2 separate regions of the Homo sapiens genome follow, and region 2 is linked to region 1. The links come from fine-mapping of genetic effects on gene expression. A gene starts in region 1. The other region holds a variant in brackets. All regions are shown on one strand. Distances are between the middles of the regions. Region 1 holds the start of CAPN13 (calpain 13). Region 2 overlaps GALNT14 (polypeptide N-acetylgalactosaminyltransferase 14).

The links. PIP is the estimated chance that this variant, and not a neighbour inherited with it, causes the effect.
Region 2: its variant is fine-mapped to the expression of CAPN13 in whole blood (TOPMed, PIP above 0.99).

The regions. Positions count from the first base shown.
Region 1 is chr2:30,802,895-30,811,666 of GRCh38, reverse strand. CAPN13 (calpain 13) reads left to right here and starts at 4,221. Exons shown (of 23, transcript NM_144575.3): 1 at 4,221-4,365. LOC124905982 (a long non-coding RNA gene) reads left to right here. Exons shown (of 4, transcript XR_007086268.1): 4 at 2,141-2,471.
Region 2 is chr2:31,008,507-31,017,278 of GRCh38, reverse strand. The region is part of intron 1 of GALNT14 (polypeptide N-acetylgalactosaminyltransferase 14); the gene reads left to right. Among named protein-coding and RNA genes, the nearest start is that of GALNT14, 130 kb to the left of the region's middle. The variant G/T (reference allele first, on the strand shown) is at 3,846.

The sequences.
Region 1 (8,772 bases):
GGAGAGGGACACTGAGAAGCTATTTGGGAGTGGAAGAACTAGGGCTAGAGACAATAGAGAGAGGTCAATCAAGAGTTCATAACCCTAGGGAGGACAGAGCTCCCTTAGAGAAGGTATAGTGTCCCCCAGAGACCACAATGCCTAATGGAATGCAGAAGATGTTCGGTGGACAACCAGCAGACACTCTCGGGGCTTCCCAGAGATTCCCAGGGGGAGACGTTGCATCAGCTGGGAAAGGGCTCCAAGCCAGTGCATTCAGAACGTGAGCACTGAGTCGACATCTCTTGCAAGCACTTGTAGGCGCCAGTGACTGAAATGTCTGCATTATGTGTGGCTGTGTCTAGAAAAAGGAAGACGAAAAATAATCATTATCTCTGAGTATAAGATTATGGTTATTTTTTAACTTTTAAATAATTTTTCAAAAGTTTCTGTGATGAGTATTTTGTTTATTGTATTTTATTTTTTGAGACAATCTTGCTCTGTCACCCAGGCTGGAGTATAGTGGTGTGATCTCAGCTCACTGCAGCCTCTGCCTCCCAGATTCAAGCTAGTCTCCTGCCCCAGCCTCCTGAGTAGCTGGGATTACAGGCATGCACCACCACACCTGGCTAATTTTTGTATTTTTAGTAGAGACGGGGTTTCACCATGTTGCCCAGGCTGGTCTTGAACACCTGACTTCAAGTGATCCACTCGCTTTAGCCTCTCAAACTGCTGGGATTACAGGCGTGAGCTACTGCACCCAGCCTGTGATGAGTATTTTATAATAAGGAACATCACTCATTTTTAAACCATCTCTGGCTTCCTTATGTTCCTCTTGCCTCCACGCCTCCTGCTGCCCCACCACGCACACACACTCTGTGTTCTCATCTATGCATAAGAATGGAAACTCTGGCTTTTGCTGGGGTTCTGTCCCCCAGGGCACAAGAAGGAACCGGGGTGTAATAGGCCTGGGCTTGACTTGGTAGTTTGTAATCTGCCTAGCTGGCAGCCATGGCACAGCAAACTCAAGCTGGGTGACCTCCAGGCACTTCATACTTTTCGGCATTAATAAAAATCACTGCACTTTGTTGACTTTGCTATTTCCACCCACAGGGGAATGTACAAATACATGAAATGTACATGAAATCTGCTAAATGATCCATTTAACCATGTGGTAAACACTCTGTATACCTGTTTCCCCTGCCAAAACAGTCCCCTTTGTGATATTTTACAGGGTCATTTGATTTAATTCCCTAAGTCAACACAGGGTTTGTTTTCTTATAAAGGAAAAGAGGATAAGGCTTTTCAAAATTAACTGACTCAGGACAGTTTACCTTGAGGGTAAACCAAAGGACATTATGAGAAAGGGTGCAAAGGAGCTTCTGGGTTCTGGTAATGGTGTTTCTTAATCTGGATGCCGGTAACTTGGGTTTCCTTTGTGAACATTTATCAAGCTGTACACAGGATTTGCACATTCTTACCAGTCTCACCACAGCCTCCTCCTCGACCCTCTCCTCCTGGCTGGCTCCCCACATCCTTCACTCCCCAGGAGGGCGTCTCATGACTCCTCAGTGGAGGCACTGCCTACTTTTTCCTGTTTGGGTGTCTCCTAGAACCTGCAAATCCCCTTCATAGCACTAATTGCAAGAGAAATAATCTGGCTGCTTTTGTGGTTATTGGTTTCATGTGTGTCTCTCACTAGATTCTAAGTCCACTGGGCTTGTGTGTCCGCTGGACCTGCTGCTGTGTTCCCTGAGCCTGGTGCAGTGCCTGGCAACATGGCATGAGAAACAGTTTGTAAGAGAATGTTGGAGAGGCAGAGAGGGAGACAGAACAGTGGGGTTGGGGGAAGAAGACAGAAAGGAGAAGGGGAAGGAAGGAGAGAGGAAGAGTTATGTCTCTCAAGATCTGGGTATTCTGAGGCATGGCTACAGGTTGGTGAGTGGGAGCACTCAGGAGTGTGTTGACATGATTGAGTAAGGAGTCTCTGGAGAAAGAAGTCTCTCTCAGAGAAGGTGGTCTCCCTGTGGGCAAGATTGGTTCAAGGACTGTAGCCTAGGTTCATAAGGGGAGGACGGGGACCCTGAGCCTAGTCTGGCTCCAGTTTTCTTCTGGCTCGAAGTGATTGCAAAAAAAGAGCTATTTCTTTGCATTTCTTTAGGACACTGAGCACTAAATGTCAGCGGCATGAGTGCAGGAGCCAGTCACATCAGGGGCAGTCATGGCGTGGCAGAGGAAGTGCAGGTATGGCCACAGCACAATGGCAATGACGGCATTTCCTACACCCACAGTTGGCACTCGAAGAACAGCCCTCACAGGCCAGGCTTGGACAGCCATAGCAGGATCAGTGTATTTGGTAGACACAGGTAGTGGCAGGGGAGGCCCCAGTGGGGCTCCGTGACACAGAAGCCATCACATACAGTGAAGGAGATCGAGACTCAGAGGGAGAGGAGGGCTGTGGTGGGTCCCATGCATGCCGCAAAGGACTGCATCTCAGGGCAGCTATGCAGTGCTCAGCAGGGAATGCCAGAAAGGCATTGGAAGCATTTAAGGGGCATGCCACACGGCCTTCAGAGTTGGAGCAAGTCCAGCTAAGAACTTACTGTTAGGTGTTGCCCAGTTTATAGCCTTCGGCTGGAATTCTCTGGAAAAAACAAATCACTGAGAATTGGCTTCTAAAGAGCACCTATAAATGGGAGGAAGAACACCAAAGAATCAAAGATGCCAGAAAAGAAAACAGCCCCTGGGATTTGTGCACAGGTGTTCTTGACAGGGTCCCTCACCTAAGCCATTCTTCCGGCACAATTATCACCCAGAGCGGCTTGTTTCTTGGCACCTAGAACACTCCATCGGGAGCTGTTTCCCTTTTTAACTCAGTACTCCCAAAGACTGCTCTGGGGATAACAGCTCCCACTCTTAGGGGGAAAAATATATTTTTAGAGATGGGAGATGACAAAACCATCATCAATAAGCAAGAAAACTCCCAATTAATTTTCTTGAGACACTGTCTTGTGATATATCCTTGTGGGTAGGGCTTTCTGAAGCATTTTCTCACCATTTTTTTCTGAAACTATGGCTTTCCAACATTTTTCATTGCATGCTCTATTAGTAAAATCATTTTGAACATGCACCACAGATATCTGCGTATTTATTCACTGATGATGTTTATGCAATAGTGTGTGTGTGTGTATTGTTTACTGTATTTATAGTGAAATTTCTAATAGAAGGTGTCCGCTGGGATGCAGGAATCCCACTAAACAAACACAAGGCAGACAGGGTAAGCATCATAATCCTCAGCTCACGGATTAATAGACTAAGATGGGAAGGGACTTGCCCAGGTCACACAGCCAAAAGTTGCAAAACTGGGGTTAAAACTCATATCCATACTTTCCAGCTTCTCAGATTCTTCATTCATGTGCCAAATATCCCTTTCTACTCATCAGAATTTGGGAATGGACCAGTCATAACAGTTTTTGGTGATTTCCACATTGTTTCCCTGTTTTACCTATTTTATCATTATTGCCTATAGCATAGGGTGTGCCATGCGATCAGGGTTCTGGAACTGGCTTCTAAAGAGCACTTATGAATGGGGATGAAGAACATCAAGGAATTAAAGATGCCAGAAAAGCAAATAGCCCCTTGGATTTGAGAACAGGAAACATGCACTTTACACGCCTCATCTCTTTCTGCCCCATCCAGCAAGCAGGGATGATGCAGAGACCTTCCCTGGGTCTCGCCATGCCCAGGAGTTAATGTGTTCTACAATGTATTTGTAGAAAGAAGATACTGCGTCTAGTAGAAAGAGATGTGATATGATTGACGTGGAGTGGCCACTCTTGATGCAGGAGACATGGCAATTGTACTTTCCTGTATGAGAATGAGGCCTGAAGGAAGGTTGCTTCCCTCAGTCTTTTCTCAGCAGAGGGGTTTTGTAAAACAAACCAAAACAAAACACAAATTCCCTGAAGCAGAATAAAGATAAAGAAACTTAAATATCTGGAAACAATGAAAACTGCAAGAGCCAAGAAACGGGCAGCTTAGGGGCCCCAGGAAGTGAGGTGGGATAAGGCAGAGATAGGCTTGGGGCGGAGAATCTGGAAGCTGTTGCTGTTTACATTCAATGTCCTCTCTCTCTCCAAGAGGTGGCAGGCCACTGCCCAATGCTGAAGTCACTGTTTAACGAAGGTGGAGCCTGCCTTTACCTGGTACACCCATATAAGGAAAAGCCTGAGGTCAGGAGTAAGCAGACACCAGCACTGCTCTTTCTCCAAGACGGCCGGCCATGCTCTCCTCCTCTGCCAGTCTCCTCCACCACTCTCTAACCTGAGAGCCTGTGGAACCTGCCCGTCTCCCCTCCTCCATCAGACACACCTGCCTAGGAAACAGGTAAGTTGTGCGTGGTCATGTCCCAGAGCTGTGGACCAAGGCAGTCCTCTAAACATTAGTGAGCATGTACAATTTTCTAGAGAGCTTCATGATGTCGCTTCTGAGTTCCCACCTCCCAAGGTACATATTCAGTAGCTCTGGAAGCTGGGTTTTTTTGATGCAGGTGGTCCAAGGATATGCTTTAAGAAAAACTAGGGCAAAGTGGGAGTTAATTTTCTAAGAGAATCTAATCCAAACTTTGCATATTTCATGCAAAGAGAGTATTTCTTAATCATTCTGTCACCTTCGATTTCTGATCATTCTAAGTTGTGACCTTGAGGGCTGTGTTCACCGTAAGGGACACATTGATGGCAGAAATCATGTCTTCTTTGTGCACTGATGTGTAGTTTCTGTTAGATAGTAGGTGCTTAATAAACATTTGCTAAAGGGAAGAATGGGACCTGGGCCCTTTGTTTTCTAATCATCTAGCTTATTAGTTATAGGAATGAAGTTGACAACTCTGGGTTAATCACAAAAGACAGATCATTACAACTTCAGAGATTCAGGAGGTTCCTATATGCCTCTAGTGGTGTCATGGTCACACACATGTGTCTCTGTAACTGCTAAAGTTATGTAATCTTTGAGATGTGATGCTGTTCTCAGGGAGACAGTTCCAGCTGCTCAGCTTGGACCCAAGTTAACCAGATTAGAATAAGTGCAGATATTTTCCCTCTATAGTTACAGTTGGGTCATGAACTACTGACTGTCCCATTTGTCCTGGGTCACAAACACAACTTTGGTTACCCCCGAGTGGCATTAACTAGACTTTCAATCAGATTATCCTCTTGAATTGTCTCACCTTTGTACCCACCTTGACATAAGTATTGTGGGTTTTTGTTGTTGTTGTTGTTGTTGTTGTTATTTTGAAGGTTGGAGGAGTGACAGCTGTAGGGAGGCTTACTTATTAGTAGATTGGTTGATGGAAATGTAATAATCTACCAACTGTGTAATAGGCAAAAGCTATATATAGCATGAGTTCATTATCCCATTTTGTAGATGGAAAAAGTGAGGGACCGGTGAGTGACTTGCTGCAAAAGTTTATACCAGATGCAAATGACAGAGCTGGAGTTCTGCTGTGCCTGGTAGGTACCCTGTCTTGTCCCCTAGTTATTTGGTTGTATTCAGTTACCCTCTTGAAAGAACACCTTAGAAGAAAAGATGCTATGAAGAAATGCACACATTAAGCCAAGCACTGTGGCTCACACCTGTAATCTCAACACTTTGGGAGGCCGAGGTGGACAGATTGCTTGATCCCAGGAGTTCAAGACCAGCCTGGGCAACATGGTGAAACCCTGTCTCTACAAAAATAAATTAAAAATTGGGGGTCTGGGAAAAAATATTAGCTACATGTGGTGGTGCACACCTGTAGTCCCAGCTATTGGAGGCAGGGGGAGGGGTCCATGGTTGAGGTGAAAGGATTGCTTGAGCCCAGGAGGTTGAGGCTTCAGTGAGCTATGATCATGCCACTGCACTCCAGCCTGAGTGACAGAGCAAGACCCTGTCTCAAAAAAAAAAGACCAACCTACTGGCCCTGAGGCTCACTCCGTATCAAGCATTGTGCTTGATGCTTCCATATGGTGAGCTGTGTGATTTGGGGCATGCTCCTTAACCTCTTGGGGGTCCCAGTTTCCTCATCACTAAGACATGGTAGCAACAGTAATCTACCCCAAAAGATCAGTGAAAGGATCAAATGAGATCCTATATGGAAAGCACTTAGCAGTACTTGAGCACATGGCAAGTGCTGAAGATATTTTAGTCATTATTGTTGACATTATTTTAGCCTGGGTTCTCTATAAAACAAAGCCTGAGGCAAAGCTTAAGTGCTACTTAGCACTTAAGGTAAGACACCAGGGGAGTGAGAGTCAGGGAAGTGGGAAATGGGAAGAGAAAAAGGGGAAGCAGTGAGGGATGATGTGCCACCACCTGGCCTCTCTTCACAAAGAGACATGACCAGCCACTTGGCCAAAGCAGGGCCCCTCTGGACTGGCGTTGCAGATGCATTGTGCCTTGGAAGAGTCTATCCGAGCAAGGGTAGAGAGGACATTTATATGTTGGCTCACTCTGTCTCCTCTCTTATTGTTCAAAGCTTGCCCTATGGGGAGTTAACTGTCCTGCACTTCCAGCTTGTGTCTTCTGACCCCTGTGGCAGCCACTGGGAAAACTAGATCTAATTGCTAGAGGCTTGGCACCTCATCTGAGTCCAGAAGTGGTCAGAAGAGCCACTTCCTTGGCTGGAGTAAAAAAGGGACCAAGAGTCCTAGAGACAGGTTGAGGCTAAGAGAACCTGAGATGGCACCTAAGAAAGGTTTAATAAAGACTGAATTATCATTAATATCTGCTGAACACTGCGTACAGCACTAATGTTCCTGCCTAGATGTCACCTCTTTCTCCCATGAGAAAACCATAAAGGGGACTTTGGATAGGCTGGTCCATTCCATCTCTCCTCAAGGTTTGGAAGAAGTCAGGTTGAGGGCATCCTAACTCTCTCAGAACGTCCATGGTGGAGCATGCCACTGATAGACAGCAAGGAAGTCCACGGCCATGCAAAAGATGGGAGCAGAATCAAGAGGAGGTGTTGATTTTCTACCACCCTTGGGACTCTATCTTTTGGTCAAGTGTTTCCTAAAGCATGGTATACATAGAACACTAATTTTGGGGGCTGTTGCTGGGGGCTCCTTGATATAAAGCATTTATGATCAAATATTTGGATGAATGTTGCCTCCTACTCTTCCCTCCTCAGAGAGTTATGATTCCAATTTACTTAAAAAGGCTCTGTTCACGCCTGTAATCCCAGCACTTTGGGAGGCCGAGGTGGGCGGATTGCCTGAGGTCAGGAGTTCGAGGCCAGTCTGGCCAACATGGTGAAACTCTGTCTCTACTAAAAATACAAAAAAATTAGACAGGCATGGTAGCATGCACCTGTAATCCCAGCTACTTGGGAGGCTGAGGCAGGGGAATTGCATGAAGCAGGGAGGTGGAGGTTGCAGTGAGCCGAGGTTGCGCCACTGCACTCCAGCCTTGCTGACAGAGTGAGACTCTGTCTCAAAACAAACAAACAGAACAGGCTCTGAGAAAGCCAAAACAAAGGAACCAGTTGAACTGAGTGCACCAGAGCCTCCCATACTGAACTCCAGTTGGACCTGTGTTCATGGGCTCAGTCTCTTTTGTCTTGATTCCTGAATTCTCAGGGCACTCTCCTCCACTATGCACTACTTTTTGCTTTGCACAAACCCTGTTGAATAAAAAACTCTGCAGTATAAGGGAAGGCTGTGGGGGTGCATGAGAAGCTTTTACCAATCTGCAGAGCTCATTCTCCCGGGAAACAACCAGGAAAGCTCAGCCAAGCCTTAAGCCTGTTTCCTTGTCTCAATAATAGAGAGGTGAACAAGGCAATCCCCAAGGAGTCTCCCAGCCTCTTGTAATCCATGATACTCATGTTGAAAGGCAGCTAAAGGTCACCTCATCTATCTCTTGTGTTGCCTCAGAGACAAACTATTTAGTGAATAAAGAGATCCAAATTGTTAATACATGTTGTAGGGTTATGAAGTGGAGATTTGCCCACTGCCGCCCTCTCTGGTGAGTTCAACATGAGATGGGACGTGTACCATGTCCCACGGTAGTGGCTGGGGTGACGAGCTGCCTCTAAGGACTTGGGCTGGAGGACAGCCAGGACTCTGGGGTTAACATCCTCACTTCGGCCAAGTAAGTCCCAAGGGACCTTTAAAATTGGGAGCAGCCAGGAGGTTTGTTTCCTTTCCCTCTGAAAGAATGGTCCCTCTGGCAGCACTCTGCCCTCTGATCTCCACTGGTCAGCCCTGCCATGTCCACCTCCCATGCCTGTGGACCAGGTCTGACCAGCACCTCCCACACAGTTCAGAGGACTGAACAAGACCCTGTCCCAGCCTGCAGACCAGAGACACAGAGGGGCGCTGTCTCCCATCACAGCCACACACTGCCTTCGGGAGATGCACCCAGTGGCCCACTAGAGACCACTGGTTCTCAAAGGTCTGAAGCCAGAGAGGTGATGGAGAGATGACAGGAATCTTTGCCCCTGTTCTTCTCGCCAAACATTCTCTTTTCTCCCCACTCTAATCCTTAACCAGACGTGGCAGCCAACCAGCTGAACTACATATACCATTAAGCCCCACCTCAGAAAACTCTAGCTTTCTGCAGGAACTTAAGATACAGTCGGATGGCATGGCCCTGGGGGAGATGAGGGCAGAGGCTTTCTGCAGGGGCTGGCTCCTGGGACTCCAGCCAGCAGACCACCAGATGCACGTTCCGTCAACCCAGGGGCTGTCCTGAGCCAGTGCTGCCATCCCCTCAGACCTGTCCTCAAGCCTTCTTCCTCAGCCAGGTCACCTGCCC
Region 2 (8,772 bases), 210 kb before region 1:
TGCTAGCAGGCCTGATGGCTTACAGGAAGAACATCCTGGCTTGCAAGGGGCCAGGGGCCAAGTCATATCTGTTGAAGGCCATGGACATGGAGGAAGATTAGAGTCTTAGGAACCTTTCTGAAAATGTGGGAACAAAATTCATATATAAAGCAGAAATGGCATTAACAGAAAGAGCATGGGCCAGACAGACTGGGGTCCAAATTAGAAGTCTGCCATAGCTAGCTTTGAGACCCTTGCTTAACCATAAAGTGATCATCACATTATTTGCCTTGCAGGGTTTTTGAGGATTCAGTGAATAATGTGTACGGTTCGTCCAGCACAGAGCGTGGTATGTTGTGAGGATGATAGCTAACACCTCGTGATCCCTTTTGTGTGCCAGGCACTATCCTAAGCTTTGTAGGTAGTGCTTTGTGTCTTGAGTCAGATTCCATAGAAGCAGAGCCTTGTAAATTTAATGAGAGCACTCCCAGGAGGAGGGGAGTGAGGGAAGCAAGACAGGGCAGGCGGGGGAAGATGCTCTGCAAGGATGTATCTCATAGTAGGAGATTTCAACCTGGTTCCAAGGGGAGCCTTGGAGAAGAGATTGCTCAGCCACTGGCACCAGTTGCTCCCTGGAGTTGGGGATATACCTCCCAGGAGAGGCAGGTCTTGTTCTGGGGGGCAGGTCTCTGTAGAAGTTTGCAGCCAGCACTCCTAGCAGCTGAGAGATGGGTGTGCAGGCCCAGTGGAAGGAGTTCGTGTGGGGCACAGTGGCACCCACTGTGGTTCATCCCTCTATCCTGGTACAGCTTCTCTGGGATTCTGTTTAGTCCCAGTTTCTAGGAAGCTCTGTAAGGAAAGGTGTAATCGCCTGAATTGTGTCCCTTCTCTACCCTCTACCATTCATACGTTGGAGCTCTAACCCCCATGTGACTGTATTTGGAGAGATGGCCTATAAGGAGGTAATCAAGGTTGGCATAATACAATCTGATTGGTGTCCTTACAAGAAGGGAAGATTAGAAATCCAGAAAGAGACATTGGGGATGTACACACAGAGAAAAAACCACATGAGGACTCAGCCAGAAGACGGCCATCTGCGGGCCAAGTGGAGAGGCCTCAGGAGAAACTAACCCTGTTCGCACGTTGATCTTGGACTGCCAGCGTCCAGAGCTGTGAGAAAATAAACTTCTGTTGTTTAAGCCCCGTGGTCTATGGTGTTTTGTGATGGTAGCCCGAGCGGATCCATGCAGAAGGGCTAGTAGAGCAAACTCTAGGCCCTGCTGCTGCAATTGTTTGTGACTCTCATCATCTCCTTCCTCCTCTACCCATTCTAGATTTCATGCCCCCTCAGCCTGCTTCAAGGTCTCGTTTAGGCAGCTTGTCTGGTGGGATGATCCCAGTGGCTCTGGTTACCAAGCCAGGATCCACCTTGCATTTAATTGTAATAGTCTCTTCCAATCTGTGATGTCTTTCCTTGTCTTACGTGACCTTGACACGCTGAAGAGTTCTAGTCAGTTGTTTTGTAGAATGTCTCTCCATTGGGTTTGTCTGATGTTTTCTCCAGATTAGACTGAAGCTACGTGTTTTTGGCAAAAATACTACAGACGTGGTGTTGAGCCCTTGTCAGTACATCCTTATAGGGGATATGTGATATTGATATGTTTTATTACTGGTAATGTTAATCTTGATTGCTTGGCTAGGGTGGTACTGGCCAGCAGTCTCCATCATAAAATTACTCTTTTTTTCCCTTTTGCCATTAGTACATTGGAGGATGTACTTTGAGACTTTGCAGACATTCTGATTCATCTCAACTGTTAGCCCATCGATTTTAGTATAGATGGAGGCAGATTTTCCGGACCCTTTTTATAAGGCAGAGTTGCCTTCTTTCTGCAATTCTCCTGTCAGGAGTGGATTTGGGGTGCCCTGCAGAGGCTGTAGTCACTAACTCTCAACTCTCACTGGCAGAGAGTGAGTTCCCATCTCTTTTTTTTTTTTTTTTTTTCCTTTGAGATGGATGTTAGCTCTTGTCACCCAGGCTGGAGTGCAATGGTACGCTCTTGGCTCACTGCAACCTCAGCCTCCCAGGTTCAAGCGATTCTCCTGCCTCAGCCTCCCAAGTAGCTGGGATTACAGGAGTGCACCACTATGCCCAGCTAACGTTTTTGTATTTTTAGTAGAGATGAGGTTTCACCAAGTTGGTCAGGCTGGTCTCAAACTCCTGACCTCAGGTGATCCACCCACCTCAGCCTCCCAAAGTGCTGGGATTACAGGCATGAGCCACGGTGCCCGGCCAAGCTCCTGCCTCTTTAAAGCTAGCGAGTGGTTGATTCTTCAGAGGCCACAGAACTTTAGCCCTTCCCTCCCTCCTTTATGCATTCCCTCACCTGCTAATTTACACTTCTGTCTCATGTTTCCTTCTCCTTCCTCTTCCTTTCTCTGGGGTTCTTGTTGAATTAATTATGGCAGGAAAGACTGGTGTAAGGGTACAACCCACACAGAACTTTGCACTCTATATACATGGTAAACGCAGGGGTGCTTTAGGGATCATTGACTCCTACCCTCTTATTCTACGATGAGGAAATAGGGAGAGTTCAAGTGACTTGCTCAAGGTCACACTGCTAGTGGGTGGCAGATAGATTGGGTCTAGAATCTGACTTGCTGACCTACATGTATCGTGTGTCCCAGCATGCTGCGTTCCTCAGGGCTAGTCATATGGGGACCTGTTCAGGCCTTCAGAAGGGGGCATCCACTGGCAAGCAGCTGGATCCACACTGCTTCTCACCATGCCCCTGCCAGGAGGTGAAGGCTTGCTTTTCCTTCAGTCTTCAGTTTCTCTGCCTCAGTCCTGGGGAAAAGAGTTTGCTCTCTGTGTGGTTGGAAACTGGGGGCCCAATGCCTCTCTGTGGGAGGGGCTTCTCCCTGCAATGAGTTGCAACATTGTGAATTGATACAGCAACCTACTGGAGAGCCCAGAGCCTCACTAGCTATCCAGATCCAGAGCTGATGGGTACCCCCTTGCCTTTTTTGGGGAGGAAGGGGGAAGGGAGATGTTCACTTTTATTCTCATCTTTAGTCAGCTTCTCCTCTTAATTGACATTTACTATGTGCAAGCCACTGCTTTTTACCTACAGTATTTTCATTTAATTCTTAAAACCCTGTGAAATAGGCATTATTCTCCCCATTTTACAGGTGATGGAACTGAGGTTCAAACAGGTTAAGCAGCTTCCTCCAAATCACATAAACAGTAAGCAGTGGAGCCAGTGTCAGAGCATAGGTCTTGAGAAAATTTAGGTTCATCTGTTTTCATTCCTTAAGTGCAGCTTTCATGAAATCTTACAGGGACAGAAACTTAAAGCCATTGTCTGCACAATCGTTATTTTTAGATTGTCAGAGTCTATAACACTTTTGTAGTGTTTCATGACCATTCCCATAGCTGTTTACTTTTAGTTTTGTAATTACATAGATTCAGTGCTCTACTGGTTCTTCTGCTCCATTCTTGGGTTTTTTATTTTGAACCACCTCTTCATTGACTGCATGTGGGAACAAAATTCATATATAAAGCAGAAATGGCATTAACAGAAAGAGCATGGGCCAGACAGACTGGGGTCCAAATTAGAAGTCTGCCATAGTGGATTCTAGTGGCTGCTTCAAAATGGGCTCATAGGTGCTGTCATCCCTGAGCTTGGATGTGGGAATATCACACTCCTGCTGTCCGTACTTGAACGGCACCTCAGCAGGTTAAAATGCTTCTGGTCACATTTGGACTCAGCCCCGTGGGTGTTGCTTCATTATCCGCTGACATGGAAAGCTGCCGCGGGGAAGTTTGAGGTCAGCTGAACATTTCCCCTTCTGTAGGTGACTTGTTG[G/T]TTCTGCCTGGGTGCTTGATGATTTCTTTCTTGCATTTGGAAGTTCGATACCTAAACCAGGAAACATCTTCGTGTCAATCCCTTTGTATCAATTTTTTATGGAATGTGGTGTGCAATTTTGATGTGCAGACTCAGATCTTTATTCATCTCAGGAGGTTTTTATTTAAAAAGATGAAGACTGTTTTGTGTGTTCCATCTGTTTCTCTGCTTCAGGTTCACCAGTTTTCTGATGTTGGATCACCTTTGCTCTTTCTATACATTTTATTCTCTCCTGTAGTTGCTTTAATAATTTAAATCTTTCTCCTCTGAGTCCCAGTGACTTGCCCAAGGTCCCACTGCTCAAGAGTGTCAGAGCCAGGACTGGAACCCTTTAGTTGGTATCAGTAATTAGATTTCCTGCTGTGCCTGCACTGCTTCTTGGAGTTTCAACATGTATTTATTGGTTCTGCAAAAGTGTTTTGTGGTTCTCAGTTTTATCATTCTTTATTCCATTGCTTTATTTAATCATCTAATCCTTTAGCTCTTATTTTATTAAATTCATGCTTTTAAGCTATTCCATAGCATGAAGCACGTTTGGGTAATTTCCTTCCATTTGTTTAGTTGTTTTTATTTAGACTGGGGTTTTTGTTTTGTGTGTGTGGGTGGTGTTGTTTTTGGATTTTTTTTCATACTGTGTTCCATTTTGTTGGTTTGTTTGGTTTTGGTTTTGGCCCCACCCACACAGGGGCATGTTTGCATCATTGCCATGCAGTTCCTTTGCATCTTGCTTGACCTACACACCCTGATTCAGGGCAAGTTCATTCTTAACCCTTTTTTCACCATGTCTGAGCCTGTTCATTTCCTCCACAAGGCATAGTTTGAGGGCTGTGAGTTCTGTGTCTGTCCCCTTGTCTGTAGCCTGAGGGCCTTGGTGGAGTGAGGTGGGAAGGGAGAGCTGCACTGAGGCTGTGAGCAGTTTTTATTACCAACCTCTCAGAGAGAAAAGCCACACTCCTGCCTCCAGGACACACGCTGTTTTGTGGAAGAGACCCAATAAACAGGTAACTATAGGTGCTGCCATAAGAAGAGGGGACACTATTAGGTTGCAGGGACCAGATTTGCTTGCTTCCTTAAAGTCATGGTGGTGGCAGTTTAATGGAAGGATGCCAGTGTGTGGGAACCAGGGTTAAGCCAGACCAAAAGTCCAGGGCAGTACTTGCAGACCACGGCAAAGAACTTGGCCTTTATTCTGTGAGTGGGATCCAACCGTGTCTTAGAAGAGCCATTCCAGCAGCAGTGTGAAAAATTAAATACAGGTCTAAAGACATAAATCCCCAGCGCTTATCTGTTGGTCGGCTCTGCAAAGAGAATGAGGAGATATCTTCTGTACTGGAAACTGTCACCAAGGAGTAGAGAATTTCCTGAGCAGACTGGCGTTCCCCACCCTTCTTTGCCCCTGCCCGTTTCAAACACCTTCAGCTCCTGGGCATCAGCTGAAGAATGCCTAGCTTTTCCCCAGTGCTGTGGATCTCTGGAGATGTGTTTCCCGGCTGAGCGTTATGGCAGCCAGAGCCAGGCGGCACGTCCAGAGAACACATCTCAAGGTTGTTGTTTGAAGTACAAACAGAGCAGGGACCAATTATGGAGTCCCTCTGCACAGCATGCCTCCTGACTGTGCTCGGCATGGGGTGGGCAGAGGCTGGCAGAGCTGAGGAGCCAGCTTTGGCCCCCTGAGGGGTAGCTGGGAGGGAGAAGGGAGAGTATCATAGATTTATTTGCTGCCAGACAGGTCTGCCAGTGTGAGCTCATCTTTCAGAGAGGCGCCCTCTCCTCTTAACAGCCAGGTGCCTCCTGTGGCCCCAGGGTGGCACTGGATCCTAGATCCTGTGAGCAGAATTTTGCATCTATTTCTGGGGAAGAAAAGACCATGGCTTCTATTACACTGAAAAATAGGGCCCTGTCTCCTCAAATAGTTAAGGATGCCTCTGCTATGTAACCCCTATATTTTATAGGTGGGAAAAGTAACCAGAGACCCAGTGAGCAGAAATGGTTTACCCGAGGATTCAAGGTTGTGGAGGCCAGATCTAAAAGTCAGCTCTTACTGCCCCATGGACATACAACGTTGTCTTCACTTTGCTACCAAAGTGGTAGCTATTCTTTTTTGAGTGCTAAAAGTATGCCTGGCACAGAGCTTAGTGCTTTACTTATTTTAGTCCATTAGATCCGTAAAATGGCATCACAGTTTTGCAGAATAGACAGCCAGACAGCTAACTCTCAGTTGAGGGAGAGAGGTTAAGTCACTTCCCAAGGTCACAGAGACAGTAACTGGAGGAGAGATTGCAGACCCAGCTCTCGTGGGTGTCCACCCTCCCTATCCCTTCCCTCCCTCCTTCCTGTGCTTCTGTCTCAGTCTAGTTAATTCCTGTAGGCCTAGGCCAAGGCTTGCCTCCCTGCTGAACCTCTCCCTGATGGCACCAGCCCTTGCTGGTCTTCTCTTTTCTGAAAAGCCAGGCCCATTGAAAGTTTTTTGTAGGCAAAATGGTTCTGGTTTCCCATCTTGCCACTTCCTTGCTGGCCACAGTTGATCAGATTGAGAGTATTCCAGGCAGAAAGCCCTATGAGATGGGATGAGATGGATGAGAAAGGGAAGAACGGCCAGTGTGGCTGGAACATAATGAGCTAAGAGGGATGGGGAGGGGTAAGTGTGGAGAGTTTGCAGGTTCTGATCAGGCAGGGCCTTGGGGGCCACAGGAAAGAGTGAGGACAGCATTCTGAGTGCAGTGGGAGCCGCTGGAGGGATTCTGAGCCAGAATGGGAGAGACGGGAACGAATGTCATCTTGAGACAGAGTCTCTCTCTGTTGCCCAGGCTGGAGTGCAGTGGCGCAATCCCGGCTCACTGCAAGCTCCACCTCCCGGGTTCACGCCATTCTCCTGCCTCAGCCTCCCAAGTAGCTGGGACTACAGGTGCTCACCACCCCGCCCGGCTAATTTATTTATTTATTTATTTTTTGTATTTTTAGTAGAGATGGGGTTTTACCGTGTTAGCCAGGATGGTCTGGATCTCCTGACCTCGTGATCTGCCCGCCTTGGCCTCCCAAAGTGTTGGGATTACAGGCATGAGCTACCACGCCCAGCCACAGATGTCGTTTTTAAGAAGGCGACTTTGGGCCAGGCGCAGTGGTTCACGCCTGTAATCCCAGCACTTTGGGAGGCTGAGGCAGGTGGATCACCTGAAGTCAGGAGTTTGAGACCAGGCTGACCAACATGGTGAAACCCCGTCTCTACTAAAAAGATACAAAAATTAGGCAGATGTGGTGGTGGGCTCCTGTAATCCCAACTACTCAGGAGACTGAGGCATGAGAACCGCTTGAACTCAGGAGGCGGAGGTTGCAATGAGCCAAGATCATGCCATTGCACTGCAGCATGGGTGACAGAGCAAGACTATGTCTAAAAACGAAACAAAACAAAACAAGGTGACTTTGGAAAATGAATTGGAGGGATCAAATGCAGTATTCCAGAATGCAGTTGGTGGTGGTTGGGTATGGTTGTAGAGATGGGAAAAGGAGGGTGGCTGGATGGAGGCATGCTTTGCAGGCAGAACCAACAGGACATGGGGATGGGTTAGTTGTGTGTGGGTTCAAGTGATTAGAGTGAGATTTAGAATGAGGAAGAAGGAATTGTCGAGGGTAACTCTCAGATTCCTGACTTGTGCAGCTATGTGGCTGGTGGTGCCATTTCTTTACTTGTGAAAGCCTGGAAGAGGCACCAGTTCCAATGGGCAAATCAAGAGTTCCATTTGAAATCCATGCAAGGTGAGATGCTTGTGAGACCTTAAGTGGGCATGTCCAGTAGGCGTTTTTTTGATATTGTTCTGGAGCTCAGAAAAGAGATCTGGGCTGGAAAACTATATTGGAATCCTCCATCTATAGAAGGTTGTCAAGGCACAGGAATGGAGGAAGTCACCTGTAGGGAGAGTGTAACGAGTGGAGAGGAGGGACCAGGGCTAAATCCATGCACACTTCCAACAATGAGAAATCAGGGGAAGGGAGGAGCCAGAGAAGGAAATGAAGAAGATGCCAAAGTCTGAGAAGCCCAGGAGAAAGTATTCTGAAACAGAGAGACAAGGACCCTCGAAGGGGGGCTTTTCCAGGGGGTAGGATGTTGCTGAAGGGCCAAGGAAGATGAATGTGCCAAATTGTGCCTTAGTGCTGAGCATCCAGTAGGTGCCCAATAAATGTGAGATCCTCTTCCTTGCCCTCTGCCTCCTCCATTTGTTCTTCTTTCATTCTTTCTGCATATCTATTGGCCTTTTCCCTCAGTTTACAGTAAGAACTCAAGAAATAATGAATAAATAAATGAATGCATGAAGTGAATGAATGAAGTGAATTGCAAGTTCTGCTGTCATTATCTCCCCTCCTGCAGCCCGGGGCATTGATTTTGTTCAAGGGCTAAGCCAGATGCAAGTTTCCTGGGAACCTATGGCCCTTGTCTAGCAGAGGGCCCTCCAGGGAGCCATTTCTCATGCTTGTCTGGCATCCTGGCCTGAGCAGTGCCACATGGTCCCCGGCCACCCGTGCAGGGAGCCGCCTCCCCCAGCAGGAAGCTAGAGTCCCTGTCGCCTTTCCTCCCGGAGCGGTGTCGACTGCACTGTAATCACACAATTATTATGCCATTAAAATGTCACATTTGAAGAAATCCGTATAAACAGAGCATTAACAACCGCTTTAAAATTGTAGTCTTTACCACTAATGACCTACTTTCTCTATGCACCGCATCCTCCCACCACTCATGCTGGCTGCCTCTCTTCCAGCCTTGATTTTGGAGGCAGGCGAGAAGAAGGTACAGTCATCTTTTCTGCCTGGAAAGCCTTAATGCTTAATGTGCTGAGAGTGACTCTTTGACAGGACTGGAGACAGCAAGGCTGGGGGGAGCCATTTAGTGAGTGAG